Homo sapiens: one gene and its partners. The protein of the gene in region 1 interacts with the protein of each later gene in a pairwise test. Each region holds a gene or a part of one and is shown in the gene's direction. Other genes may lie near its edges.

What was found. The genes of interacting proteins can lie anywhere in the genome.
Region 2: the proteins of RANBP9 (region 1) and ENTPD1 interact in binary tests that used the Homo sapiens proteins (3 or more experiments, as listed by UniProt).
Region 3: the proteins of RANBP9 (region 1) and MKLN1 interact in a two-hybrid assay, tested with the Homo sapiens proteins (2 studies listed by BioGRID).
Region 4: the proteins of RANBP9 (region 1) and SMAD9 interact in a two-hybrid assay, tested with the Homo sapiens proteins (one large-scale study listed by BioGRID and IntAct).

What each region holds. Positions count from the first base shown.
Region 1 is NC_000006.12:13,705,201-13,708,861, reverse strand, and holds part of RANBP9 (ran-binding protein 9), read left to right. Parts: intron 1-3,661. UniProt on the Homo sapiens protein: May act as scaffolding protein, and as adapter protein to couple membrane receptors to intracellular signaling pathways. Acts as a mediator of cell spreading and actin cytoskeleton rearrangement.
Region 2 is NC_000010.11:95,871,053-95,874,515, forward strand, and holds part of ENTPD1 (ectonucleoside triphosphate diphosphohydrolase 1), read left to right. Parts: 3' UTR 1-3,463.
Region 3 is NC_000007.14:131,446,266-131,449,926, forward strand, and holds part of MKLN1 (muskelin), read left to right. Parts: intron 1-3,661. UniProt on the Homo sapiens protein: Component of the CTLH E3 ubiquitin-protein ligase complex that selectively accepts ubiquitin from UBE2H and mediates ubiquitination and subsequent proteasomal degradation of the transcription factor HBP1.
Region 4 is NC_000013.11:36,913,688-36,917,348, reverse strand, and holds part of SMAD9 (mothers against decapentaplegic homolog 9), read left to right. Parts: exon of another isoform or gene 1-570; intron 571-3,661. UniProt on the Homo sapiens protein: Transcriptional modulator activated by BMP (bone morphogenetic proteins) type 1 receptor kinase. SMAD9 is a receptor-regulated SMAD (R-SMAD).

The sequences.
Region 1 (3,661 bases):
TTGTTACTGTAGACTGTGTGTGTGTGTGTGTGTGTGTGTGTGAGTTTTCCGTTGTTACTGTTGATTTTCTGCGTGTTTTGTGAGAGGACCACGCCGATTGTGGTGGGCAACTGTGTCCCAGTAGCAGTAGCAGTAGCAAAGGAGAAGTATCATAGAGAGTAGATAATACTTTAAAATCACAGAATAAGAAGAGTGAATTTTTATTTAACCTATCATTGTGCTGCATTGGTTTTACCTAAGTATCATGAGACACTTTTAACAGTAAAAACTACTATTCATATATTCACGTATTACAGAATTTCAAAAGAATGATTTTAATTATTTTCCAGAGTGACGAGAATTTTCCTTATCTTTGAAATAGAAGTATTTTGCTTTCTTTTGCTCCAAAGGTATTCTGGTTTTTTGTTGTTGTTCTGGTGTTTTTGTGTATGTGTGTGTGATAGGATTTCAACTTTGTTGCCTTGATGGAGTGCAGTGGTGCGATCATGGCTCACTGCAGTCTAGACCTCCTAGGCTCAAGGGATCCCCCTGCCTCCATCTCCCAAGTAGCTGGGACCACAGGCTCCTGTCACTATGCTGGGCTAAGTTGTAATTTTTTTTTTTGTGGAGATGGGGTCTTACTGTGTTGCCTAGGCTAGTGTTGAATGTTTGGGCTCCAGTGATCCTCCCACCTTGGCATCCCAAAGTACTGGAATTACAAGCCTGAGCCACTGTGTCCAGCCTGTATTCTGTTTTTAAGATGTTCTTCTAAATTGAAATTACTGCTTTTGGAAGCAGTATTGTTCCTGAAATGATTTGAAGAGATTAATGTTAGATAATACTAGACATGCAGATAAGGTTGATTGGATTGCAGAGGAACAACAGGGTATGTATAGTATATGTGAAATTTTTTTAAAGGCCTTTTGCTTAGCAGTCACACAACAACTATTGAAAAACCCAGGGATAGCCCCTCTTATTTTTGAAATTGTTGTCAGTATTGAATAAGTACAAATGTGACAAGTTTAGACTTAGTTATAATGATAACGGGAAAATAATTTTAATAAATATGACAATGGACTTAGTTTAAATGTTTCAACAACAGATTGCATTTTTATATTTTTCTAGTTATTACCACTATTTGGATATTTTATAGAGTGCTTTATATATACACACACTAGTGGATCTGGACAAGATCCTGGAATTTTCATTTTAAATTTTAGAGAGTGGTAGAACCTGGAGGTTAGATCTTCCCAGTCATGAGTAAATCAGGATTGAAAATTTTCACTAACTCCAGATTTAGTGTTCTTTTCACAATCCCATAGTATTGCCTCTTTAAGTTCATATGAGACTTAATTATCTCAAGTAGATAAAATCCTGTGATCACATTTAGAACTTTTAAAGAATAGTTGAGATTGAAAATACTTACTCTGGGGGAAAAAGGTAACTGGAACACAGTGCTTCAGAAAAGTCCAGACACCTTGATTTTACTAATTTAGAACAGTTTAGAAGAAATCCAAGGTAAGTCAAAGTTGGGAATTATAGGAAGCAATGAAATAGTCAATTTCAGTGGGTGTGGTGGCTTACGCCTGTAATCCCAGCACTTTGGGAGGCCAAAGTAGAAGGATCGCTTGAGCCCAAGAGTTCTAGACCAGCCTGGGCAACATAGTGGGACCCCGTCTCTACCCCTAAAAATTAACCGGGCTAAGTGGCACACACTTGAAATCCCAGCCACTTAGGAGGCTGAGGGAGGAGGATTGGTTGAGCCCAGGAGGTTGAGGCTTCAGTGAGCTATGATGGCCTGGGTGACAGAGTGAGACCCTATCTTAAAAAAAAAATAAGTAAATAAATAGTGAATTGCATTTTTTTTTTTTTTTTTTGAGACAGAGTCTTGCTCTATCGTCCAGGCTGGAGTGCGGTGGTACAATCTCTACTCATTGCAGCCTCTCCTGGGTTCATGCAGTTCTTCTGCCTCAGCCTCCTGAGTAGCTGAGTAGCTGGGATTACAGGCGCTTAGCACCACGTCCGGCTAATTCTTGTATTTCTAGTAGAGACGGGGTTTCACCATGTTGGCCAGGCTGGTCTTGAACTCCTGACCTCAGATGATCTGCCCGCCTCGGCCTCCCAAAATGCCGGGATTACAGGCATGAGCCACTGCGCCTGGCCTGAATTGTCCTTTTTTTTTTTTTTTAAGATGGAGTCTCGCTCTGCTGTTGTCAGGCTGGAGTACAGTGGCGCCATCTTGGCTCACTGCAACCTCCGCCTCCCGGGTTCAAGCAATTCTTCTGCCTCAGCCTCCTGAATAGCTGAGAATACAGGCATGCGCCACCACGCCTGGCTAATTTTTGTATTTTTAGTAGAGGGGAGGTTTCAACATGTTGGCCAGGATGGTCTCGATCTCTTGACCTCGTGATCTGCCCGCCTCGCCCTCCCAAAGTGCTGGGATTACAGGCGTGAGCCACAGTGCCCAGCCAGAATTTCACTTTTTAATTGAAATGTTATGAACAATAACCAAATAGGTTGAACTTTTTTGTTGTTTTTTGAGACCGAGTCTTGCTCTGTTGCCCAGGCTGGAGTGCAGTGGCGCCATCTCGGCTCACTGCAAGCTCCGCCTCCCGCGTTCACGCCATTTTCCTGCCTCAGCCTTCCAAGTAGCTGGGACTACAGGTGCCCGCCGCGACGCCCGGCTAATTTTTTGTATTTTTAGTAGAGATAGGGTTTCACCGTGTTAGCCAAGGTGGTCTCTTATCTGCTGACCTAGTGATCCACTCGCCTCGGCCTCCCAAAGTGCTGGGATTACAGGAGTGATAGGTTGAACTTTTGTTATACTTACTCTGTCTTTCCCACCTGTACCCCCAGTCATTAGCGCTTGAACACTTCCTAAATATAATTGCTTATCTAATTTCTTGCACTTTTTAAGTTTGAACAGATATTTCAGCATGCTTGCTTACAAGTGCAAATGTCTGTTAAGCATTACGGGGGTGATATAAAAATGTTTCTTTTTTTTTTTTTTTTTTGAGACGGAGTCTTGCTCTGTCGCCCAGGCCCAGGCTGCAGGGCAGTGGCGCGATCTCCGCTCACTGCAAGCTCCGCCTCCTGGGTTCAGACCATTCTCCTGCTTCAGCCTCCCCAGTAGCTGGGACTACATGCGCCTGCCACCACGCCTGGCTAATTTCTTTTGTATTTTTAATAGAGAGGGGGTTTCACCGAGTTAGTCAGGATGGTCTTGATCTCCTGACCTTGTGATCTGCGCGCCTCGTCCTCCCAAAGTGCTGGGATTACAGGCGTGAGCCACCGCGCCCGGCCTAAAAATGTTCCTTAAAATGAAGGAATTGAAGAATTACTTGCCAAGATTTTGGGAAATTAGGTTTAAAAATGCCAGTTGGTAACTGCAAGAATCAAGTAAATCTAATAATCATGCAGAACAGTAGACAATAATAATGTATATTCTTTTTTTTTTTTTTTTTTTTTTTTTTTTTGAGACAGAATCTTGCTCTGTCGCCCAGGCCGAAGTGCAGTGGTGGCACTTTGTCAGCTCACTGCAACCTCCATCTCCTGGATTCAAGTGACTTTCCAGCCTCAGCCTCCCAAGTAGCCGGGATTACAAGCGCCTGCCACCACGCCTGGCTAATTTTTGTATATTTAGTAGCGATGGGGTTTTGCCATGTTGGCCAGGCTGGTCTGG
Region 2 (3,463 bases), on another chromosome or scaffold:
GTCTTGGTCAGGATGGGGTCTCCTGTCACTTCTGTCACAGGCTATTGTAAGTCATATGAGCAAGCTCAATAAAATATAAACAAGTCAGATAAACAGTGGGAGGAATGGCAAAGTCATATGGCCAAGGCCATGAGTGATTAATTTTAACACAGGAAAAAAGTAAAGCATTAAATGCGATTATTTAATATACAATGTCTTATTAACTGAAATATAAAATGTGTTTACTGTAAAATATAATCTGTTTATCTCACCAAAGAAATATTATCTTTAAAAAATGTCATTACTTCTAAGACATCATCAGTCTGCAACTTCTTTCCATAGCCTTAATCAGGATGCTGTGGCAGCTCCCACATTAGCCTCGCATTCTAAACTGGTAGATGTCCTAGGAAACCATACATCTATGTATTTTTCTTATTTTATACGTTTAGGACAATGTATAGCTAATTACCCAACTTTTTATTTGCATACAAATCTAATACAACTGAACACAATCAGTTTTATCACAGGTATAATGGATTTTTCAATAGTGAGGAGGTGCCTCCATGAGCCTTCTCTTTAGAAAAGTGGCATTCAAGACTCTTCATTTGAAGTGAAGATTGCTATGTCTTTTGCATTGCTCTATTTTACATAAATTAAGTTATAAATTGACACTATAATCAACTGACACCATGATCAGTGATGATGATCACCCTCATCAGCACTAGAGTTGACTTGTTTTTATAACCCCTTTGCATGTATGTTGAATAGCAAAGTTCATCAGAGAACATGTATTAGTCAATGGTAAGTAAGATACTCTCATCTAAGAAATAACATCACCTCTTCTAATGAAGTTCTAAGAAGAGAGGGAAGAAAAAGTCTTGGGAGCTAGTCAGGGAATAGTGTGTATTTGCAATTACCTAAACTGAACTCTACCATTACTCCTAACCCAGTTCCTCCTCCTGTGTTTTACATGATTAATGCCACCCCTGCCTCAATGAACCAAGATCAGCTCCATCACTGGGACCTCCCCATTCTGCCTGTGCAATATTTTTCTTTTTTATTTCTCCTTCTAATATTACTGTTATTGCTCCAGTAAAGAGCTGTAATATATTTTACCTGGACTGATACCAGGAATGGTGGTGTTGCTTCCAATCTGTTGCTGCTAGATTAATCTTTGCAAAGCACAGGCTTAATTTCATTGCTGCTCAACTAAAACCACTGGTGGCTTTCCATTGCCTACAAAATAAAGTCAACCTCCCCATCAGACATTCAAGGCTTTCAATGATCCATGGCCGCCAGCTCTCTCCAGGCTCATATCCCACTCCACTCCTCTGATGTTTCCTACACTACACTACACTATACTACACTACAGCCAGGTAGAATGACTGTTCACCCAACACCACTCAGGTTGTCTTCTCAACTTGGAATACTCTTGCACCTTCAAAGCTCATTTCAAATGCCCCTTCATTTGTGAAGCCTTCTCCAAATTTCCAAGTCAGAATGTCTCTTCCTTGTGCTACCACAACCCTTTAACTGAGCCTCCATTAGTGCACTGAGACCATTCTGTTCAGTGTCTGGGTGAAGCTTCCTGGTGAAAAATATGTTACCTATTTCTTTCTGAAAAGTTGGATTCAGGGATATTATCACGGACCTAAGGTAATAGTTCTAGCCAACCTCCCTGTCCACTGCCAGGCCGACTACAAACCCTTCTGTTGCTGGCGAGCTGGTCCGCACCACTAGTTCTGCTTCACTCTATTTATCTCTTGATGTAACCATCTTCTTTCTCCAGGTTTTAAGAACCAGCCCAACTCCTGGTTCCCTGATGAAGCTTTTATTCCCCTAGCCACATGGAACTTTTCCTTTTTGGAACATGCCTTTAGTTTCTGTGTAGTTTGCCATGCAGCACTTCATTGTACACATTATTAAAACAGAATTTTAAGGATTAGAATGAACCTTAAAAGATCATGCATCTCAAAATTTAATGTACATACAAATTACCCAGGGATTTTGTTGAAATAAAAATTATTTAATTTTAATTAATATAAATAATTCAGTAGGTCTGGGGTGAGGCCTGAGGTTTTACATTTCCAACAAGCTGCCAGGTAAAGCCAATACATCTGTCCAGGAATCACACTTTGCGTATCAAAGGTCTAGATGACATTATCATTCCAAAGAGTTTCTTTTACAGGCTCTCAGATCAGTGTTCATCCACTACCTGACTACTGTCATTCACAGGCATTCTGTTCCACAGCAGGCCAGCTAACGTGGTATTTACAAAGCTCACTCCTCTTATACAACAATCCAAGTGTTTCTTTTGTCAGTTGTCTGTGCCCCAGGAGATCCCTCTCTGCCTTGCCTTGCCCTCTGCCTTTGGAGACCAGCACCTCATACTCAGTGAAGGCCTGGAGTGCTTAAGAGGGATTTCTTCCAGCTCTCTTGCCCTGGTCTTCAGTGTATTAGATGTATTACCTCCATGCTCTCAGTAGAGGCCCATAGGAAAGAGTAGGTAGGTTATGCCAGCTCACACGCATCCTTTAAAAATGGTTTAGAAGTTTAGCTGGTTTCTTATTACTCCTGTCTATGGATGTTTCCTTCTGTCACTCTACTAGGGATGAAACAGCTAATCATGTTCAATAGTTACATTTAGATTGGTTTTTAAAAACTATGATTGTATTAGTTCGTTTCCATGCTGCTGATAAAGACATATCTGAGACTGGAAACAAAAAGGGTTTAATTGGACTTACAGTTCCACATGGCTGGGGAGGCCTCAAAATCAGGTGGGAGGCAAAAGGTACTTCTTACGTGGTGGCATCAAGAGCAAAATGAGGAAGAAGCAAAAGCAGAAACTCTTCATAAACCCACCAGATCTTGTGGGACTTATTATCACGAGAATAGCACAGAAAAGACTGGCCTCCATGATTCAATTACCTCCCACTGCGTCCCTCCCACAACATGTGGGAATTCTGGGAGATACAATTCAAGTTGAGATTTGGGTGGGGACACAGCCAAACCATATCATTCCTCCCTGGGCTCCTCCAAATTTCATAATCCTCACATTTCAAAACCAATCATTCCTTCCCAACAGTTCCCCAAAGTCTTAACTCATTTCAGCATTAACCCAAAAGTCCACAGTCCAAAGTCTCATCTGAGACAAGGCAAGTCCCTTCCACTTACAAGCCTGTAAAAGCAAGCTAGTTACCTCCTAGATACAATGGGGGGTACAGGTATTGGGTAAATACAGCTGTTCCAAATGAGAGAAATTGGCCAAAACAAAGGGGTTACAGGGTCCATGCAAGTCTGAAATCCAGTGGGGCAGTCAAATTTTAAAGCTCCATAATGATCTCCTTTGACTCCATGTCTCACATTCAGGTCATGCTGATGCAAGAGATAGGTTCCCATGGTCTTGTGCAGCTCCGCCCCTGTGGCTTTGCAGAGTACAGCCTCCCTCCTGGCTGCTTTCTCAGGCTGATGTTGAGTGTCTGTA
Region 3 (3,661 bases), on another chromosome or scaffold:
GTGTGTCTTAAGGGGGGAACTTCATGGGATTGGTAACACCTTGTAAGTTTAAAAGCTCAGCATCTAGGAGGTTATTAGTAGTGGAATGGCTGGTTTGCTTAGATTATGCATATTGCCCTGGCATAATTATTAATAGTGCTCCATTCATTTTCAAAAGTGTCCTGTTTTGATCATTTATAGTTACCCTACATAGTAGTTGCTTTGCCTGTGATTATTGTACCTAAAAGAGTGGCTTTAATTAAGGTGCAATGGTTTAAAATGCTAATTTGAACAATAGAGTGAGAAATTAAATCAGCTGCTTTTCTTTTTAGCTGTTGCTTATAGATTGGTGTTTTTATTATTGGCTCTTTTGCCAAATGTGGATAAAAGCACTTGTTTCACAGACATTGTTTCTGGATATTTTATTGATTAATACAAGCTTCCTTTAAAACAAAAACAACAAAAATATTTTTAAATTAAAATATTTGTTCACATTTAAGAAGAAAAACTTGTTTTAAAACAAACAAACAAAAAAACAAAAGATAGGCAAGGCACAGTCGCATATGCCTGTAATTCCAGCTAGTCCAGAGACGGACATGGGAGGATTGCTTGAATCTAGGAGTTTAGGACCAGCCTGAGCAACAAAGCAAGACCCTGTCTCTACAAAAAGGAGGTTTCCAGATAAAAGTAGACTCAATAGATATGTTAAGCATTTGGAAGAAAAATCTGTTGATGAGTATAAATAGCATCTAATGTAAAAAACGAAGGATAGGGACACAACAGGAAAAGCGAAACTTTTTATAAAAAAGGAGACATTATCACAGTAAATTTCTTGGCTTTACAGTAAGCAGTATTTCCCTAATCATAATGCAGAACTACAGCCAGTTTAACCAAAAATTGGGATGAAATATAGTGGGAAGATAGTGTAAGTGTAGTAAACATCTTCGTCTATTACAACAGGAAATTAGTAGGTAATGTCTAAAATAGCAGCTTAGCATGTGATTTAGAAATATGGACCTGAATAGGTAATAACATTATTTACCCTATCTAAAATTGTCTTATTTACTCATTTATTTACTGTTGCCATAGGAGAGTGTAGAGCTATATGATTTAATATTTGACTTTCTCTGGCTTTTAAGAGTTATTCTAACTTACCATTAAAATAACTAGGAGGGTCAGGCGCAGTGGCTCATGTCTTTAATCCCAGCACTTTGGGAGGCTAAGGTGAGAGGACTGCTTGAGCCCAGGAGTTTGAGACTAGCCTGGGCAGCATAGTTAGCCCTCATCTCTATAAAATAAAAATAAAATAGCAGGAGAGAGGTAATACTCCTTCTACAATCCTAAGATGGGTCTCCCTGAAAAAGGTAGTGAAGATAGTAATTGATATGACAATATGTTGAAAATTATGGCATGCTGACTCAGTGCTAGACTACGGACACAGTGGATACAAGGCAATCACAGTCTCTCAAAGTGCTTATAATCTAGCTAGTAGGTAATGTATTCCCATGGATAATAATTACTACTCTTTATTTAGACCCTACCATATACCAGAATATCTTTAATTGGTGGTATTATTCTAATGTACAAGATGAAAACAGTTACACAACTACGTAATGACAGAGCTGGGATTTAGAAGTTTGAGTGCAAGGAAGGTGTTTCTGCCATGCTAAACTACTGCCCAAGATTAAAAGAAAAAAGTGGCGGCCACGTGAGGTGGCTTACACCTGTAATCCCAGCAGTTTGGGAGGCCAAGACAGGTGGATCACGAGGTCAGGAGATCGAGACCATCCTGGCTAACGTGGTGAAACCCCATCTATACTAAAAATACAAAAAATTAGCTGGGCGTGGTGGCGGGCGCCTGTAGTCCCAGCTACTCGGGAGGCTGAGGCAGGAGAATGGCGTGAACCCGGGAGGTGGAGCTTGCAGTGAGCCGATATCACGCCACTGCACTCCACCCTGGGCGACAGAGCGAGACTCTGTCTCAAAAAAGAAAAAAAAGTGGCAATGCGTGATAGTGACAGAGAACTAGTAAAATAAAAATTCACCATGACAAGTAGGCTTTAATGACTGTCATTCAAAACAATTTTTTAATGAGTTAAAATTATGTAGTAATGTACAGTATCGACAATTATTCTTCAATCATGGTTATGGCTAGCTTTAGAGCAGTGTGGCAATTATTCTTTTTATTTAATTTTGTTGTGGTCATAAAAGTAAAAATATGCTCATTGTAGAGAATTTGAAAAATAAGATGCAAAAAAGAAAATATGTCAAACTGTCCAGAGATAACTTGTTAAAATTTTGATATATTTCTGTCTAGTCTTTTTAAAACTTATTTATTGTATAAAAGTTGATACAAGTTTGTATTCTATTTTAAAATTTACATTAAATTGTGGGATTTTTTCCATTATTGTGGTTTTATTAATGTGAACTGGAGATGTTATTAGAAAAGACAAATGGATTCATTGTTTGATTACTGCTATAATCAATTTTTCTAAAATCAAAATCACCATTTTTTACTGTGTGTGTTCAGTGTGTAATTGGTTTACACAATTGAATTTTCCCACAATGCAAATAAATTCATTAATAATATTTGTTGACCATCTACTAGCATCTAAGTTTGTCCCTCTCCCTTCCTCCTTCCCTCCCCACTTAGTTCATTGTCTTCTGTAGGCCCAAGATTATTTTAGGCACTTGGGATTCATCTATGGACCTGGAGGATAAGATCCTTTCCCTTAGAGGACTCACATTCTAGTGGAGAGAGACCTGCAGTTGTGTTCTAAGTACTGTGAATAAAATACACTGGATGCCGTGATAATGAATAACAAGGGAAGTCTCATTTAAACAGAGTAGGTTGGGAAACCATCTTTGAGGAGGTAATCTTTAAGATTTAAGATGAAAAGTAGAGAATTAGGAAGAACCATGTGAAGAACTGAGAGAAGAACAAGTACAGAGTTCCCAAAGCAGGAAGGAACCTGGGATGTTCAGAAATAGTGGGACTGGTACGTATTGAGGATTGGAAAAGTTGGTATGAAACTAGGTTAGAGCTACGGAGATAAGAGTCAGAGTATTTAGTGCCTTGTTACAAATGCAAGGAGTTTGGATTTTTTTTCTGAATAAAATAGATTATTCAAAGGTTTAATATCAGTGTCTTGATCTAAGTTTTAACAATACCACTTCTTTGTCTAGGTGTATATTTTCCAAGTGGTTAATTTTGACAATGTTCCTGTGAGTTGCATTGTTCAAAGGCTTGTTTACTGAGGATTTTTATGGCAGGGTTGAGCATCTGGTTAGAATTACTTGGAAAAATTTCCCACCTAAAACTGTTGCAGTTATACTTGGAATTGAGGAACCTCAGTGACTCTGTTAGCACATTAGAGTGAAATGGAAATTATTCTCTTTTTTTCTGTTTTTTTTTCCCCTCATCTCTGCCTCTCTCACTTTCTTCCTTTTCCCTCCTTCCCATTCTTTTTCCCATGTCCCTTTTACTCCTCCCCCAACTTTCTCTCTCCTAGAGGATTCTAATATGCGGCTGGGATTGAGAACCACTGTTCTAGCTCTCCGGAGTCTATTTCAGTCCTTAGTTAACCTTAAGCAAGTTACCTAATGTCTCAGCTTTTGCTTCCACATTTGTAAATGACCCAAATTAGATTTTAAGGAAAATAGCGTCTCTGTCCATGGCTAC
Region 4 (3,661 bases), on another chromosome or scaffold:
TGTTTCATGTTATCCTGGTGAATGTCCATGTCCTAAGTAAGGACATTAAAAAAATAAACAATTATCCCTTGGTAATAAACTAACCTTTTAAAATAAATATTCCGGTAAATTTTGTCTCTTAAGAAACTTGTGTCAACTAAAGTTGTTAGGATTTCAAGATATCTGTTAGCATTAGGAGTCATTATACCCATGAAAACTGGATGTTCTTCTTGCTTGGTGGTCTTCATCCTGACACTTCCTACCCCAAAACCATGACGGACACCTCGGCCGCACTTGCCTGACTTGTATTCTGCTCTCCTTTGGTGTCGGCTTCCTTTTGTGTTAGGCTGACCCAAGACCACTTTTCCAGGCTTATCTTCCCGGTCTTTCCCTATTTTATGCTGCAGTTAAAATAGCAAATGCTAGTTTCCATGCATACCCTGGCTTTCCTCTCCTGTGCACCTTTACCCCACGCTGAGGCCTTCCCAGCTTCCCCACCTCCCACAGGATCCTCAAATATGACTTCTTCATCTTGTATGCCCTGTTCAGGCGCTGCCTTCACGGGACTTTCTGTGATGACCCTGGTCCCAGGTATGTCCTCCTTCGAGCTCCTGTGGCTCTTCGCCTTTTCAACTCTTACCTGTTTTGTATTAAGTTACTCATAGACTAATTTATTTCTTCCCCTCAGACCATCCTTACAAGATCCAGGAAGGAAGGGACTGTTTCATCTACCTTTTTTATTCTCTGAATGCTGACCACAGTGCCCTTTATAGTACTCTATCAATAAATAACAAATACATGACACATTTTTTCACTGAACCCATGGTCCCTCCTGAAATAAAGTCTGTAAAAGCATTTCACCCATAGGATAAAGTCCATCTTTCAAGAAGCTGGTGTTGAATCTGAGCTGAGGACTAGTTCAGAGGCCTGAAATCCCCTCAGCCCAGTTGAGAGCCTCCTTCTCCTGAACATTGTGGCTGAGCATTACAGTCAGGAAAAGCTTCTATGATACTCTTATTGCATTAGCAGTTTTCCATATCAGATTCACTAAATACACAATGGAAGCCATTTAGTAGAAAAACAGATTTTAATGTGATACGGCTACCACAATGAAACACTAATGTGATTCCACAGAAAATTGCTAACACGATATGCTGATTCCTCCCCCCACCATAGCCGCATAAAAATTGATACTGTTTTTAATGTATGTGTTTCAAACTATGCTCACAAAAGAAAAGCAGACTGCTACTGAGATGAGCTGCTGCTTTGTTCACGTTGGATGTGTAAAGGGTCTTGTTATCAGCCTCGTCAGGCAGAATCTGCCTTCTGTGCCTTGGTCATTCTATTATCGAACAATACTAACTCTCATTTTAAAATATATCATGTTCTGTGTAACAATCCAGTATTAAAGTTAATATGATGTGAAAAAATAGAATTTGCTTATAAATGTCATGCCCATATAATATATTCAGTTGTACCGTTTTAATTGGGAAGCTCTAATCAGCTCAAAACGCATTTTTCAAGAATCAAAACGACTCCCAATATAAAATTTAAATTCAGAATTTAAAATAAAAGGCATAAATATTAAGGTGGATTGTATATGTGTGTGCACACGGTTGTAACACTTTAGAAGTCATAAGCACTGAAGAGATTATGGTTCTTCCCCCTCATTCCCAGCCCACATTTAATTCAAAGAAAAAAGTTTAACCCAAAGAATAATTGTAAAGGAGACCTATGTAGTTCTGATTTTTTCCTATAATGACAATTTCCAATTCCTCTTTTTTAGATATTAAATATCAAAATCTTCTCTCTCTCTCTCTCTCTTTGTCTCATTCTTTGGTACTCTGATTAGCTGATTCACTGGTGGGGATTATTTTTATGTGAATTTCCCCTTGGGGAAATTTAATACTTAATATCTGATCACTTCCTTTTCTTTTTCATATTTAATTCTGAGGGACTATAAATAGAAAACATGTACTCCTCAGTCCCGAGGAGAGTTTGGTGCTGCAGTTGCGAAAAGCAATCTTCAGTTTACAAGCACTAGGAGTGCCAGGGATGCCCATTCATTCTAGGACTCCAGTTGCCAGTTTTCTATCACTGAACAAAGGAATCTGGATAGCATACATGTGGTCTTGCGGCCATTCAAACGTGTTGGTGACATTGGGGATTCTGAGTTGAGGATTCTGACGACTTAGAGTTTGCAAGTAGTAGAAGTGTGAACACTGTGAGGTAGCCACATCCTGAACTCACTGACCCCAGGAGCACATCCCTAGATACACTGGGCCATTTGCCTTAAATGACTGCTTTAATCTATGGAATATCTTCTTCCATACAGCCTGTTTTTTACTTTTCATCTGTTAAAGTGCTTAGAAGCCTATCAAATACAGATTTACTTTGGTTACTGTGTATTTTGATTTGTTTTCACAAAACGCAATAATTGTGCAATGGTTAATGTCATTCTAAAGGATTTTGTCCTACGTACTTGTGGGCTATGGAAAGCTTACAGCAGATTTGCAGGTCTTTTTTAAGAAGCATTTGATGGATGGTAGCGTTCAACTGAAGTGCCAGGAGTTGCTTTCTGAATTCTTGTATCTAAATTTAACTGACTTGGTAGTACCACATTTCAGGAGTTAATGGTAACGCAGAAAGGGATTCACAGATTCCATCAGTTTCCCACTTTGTGGCAGAATATTTGACATCTCTTATCAGTACACTTCATCATAAGTTCATGAATTCATCTTGCTCCTTTCTTTGCTGAGAATCACAGTGAGAGAATTGGAGTTTGGCTGAGAGGAGGAGTGAGGAAGGAAGAAGGAAGAGTAAGTTTTTTTTTGTTTTGTTTTTGTTTTTTGAGATGGAGTCTCTCTCTGTCGCCCAGGCTGGAGTGCAGTGGCACCATCTCGGCTCACTGCAAGCTCCACCTCCCGGGTTCATGCCATTCTCCCGCTTCAGCCTCCCAAGTAGCTGGGACTACAGGCACCTGCCACCACGCCCGGCTAATTTTTTGTATTTTTAGTAGAGACAGGGTTTCACCATGTTAGCCAGGATGGTCTCGATCTCCTGACCTCATGATCCGCCGGCCTCGGCCTCCCAAAGTGCTGGGTTTACAGGCGTGATCCACCGCGCCTGGCCCGAGAGTAAGTCATTTTAAGGCTTGGGCAGTAGCACTGTTGAGAAGTTTGAGGCACCTAAGTGTGGAAAGAGGGTGTTACAGAAAGCAGATTGGCAGATGCCAAAGGTAGACATCACATATTTGAATTAGTGTTAGTAGTATGAAAGGCACCTGCGTTGTGAGTTGAGAGGATCCTAGTGAGCTGGCCAGGGAAGTACATTAGCACTCATGACATTGTTCTAGGGGAAGGTGAATTCCAGTTTCCAAATAACTATGCAGGATTGAACACCATTTGTTCATAAAGCAAGACCACCAGTGATTGATGATATGGGTGATTATTATTAATGACATAAGTGATTATTAGAAGCCAAGAATGGTGGTAATGAATGTGGAAGATGAAAAATGTGTTAAGCTAAAAAGATTTTAGGTCTCATGTGGTTTTCTTTGTCTTGTTTATGCATTTAGTCATTCTTTGTTTTCTAGTGGAAGTAGAATTTTATTTTTAGGAATAGGAGTTGAATAAAATATTTGTCAAAGACAAACATTTATGGACATGAATGCTTCCCTTTC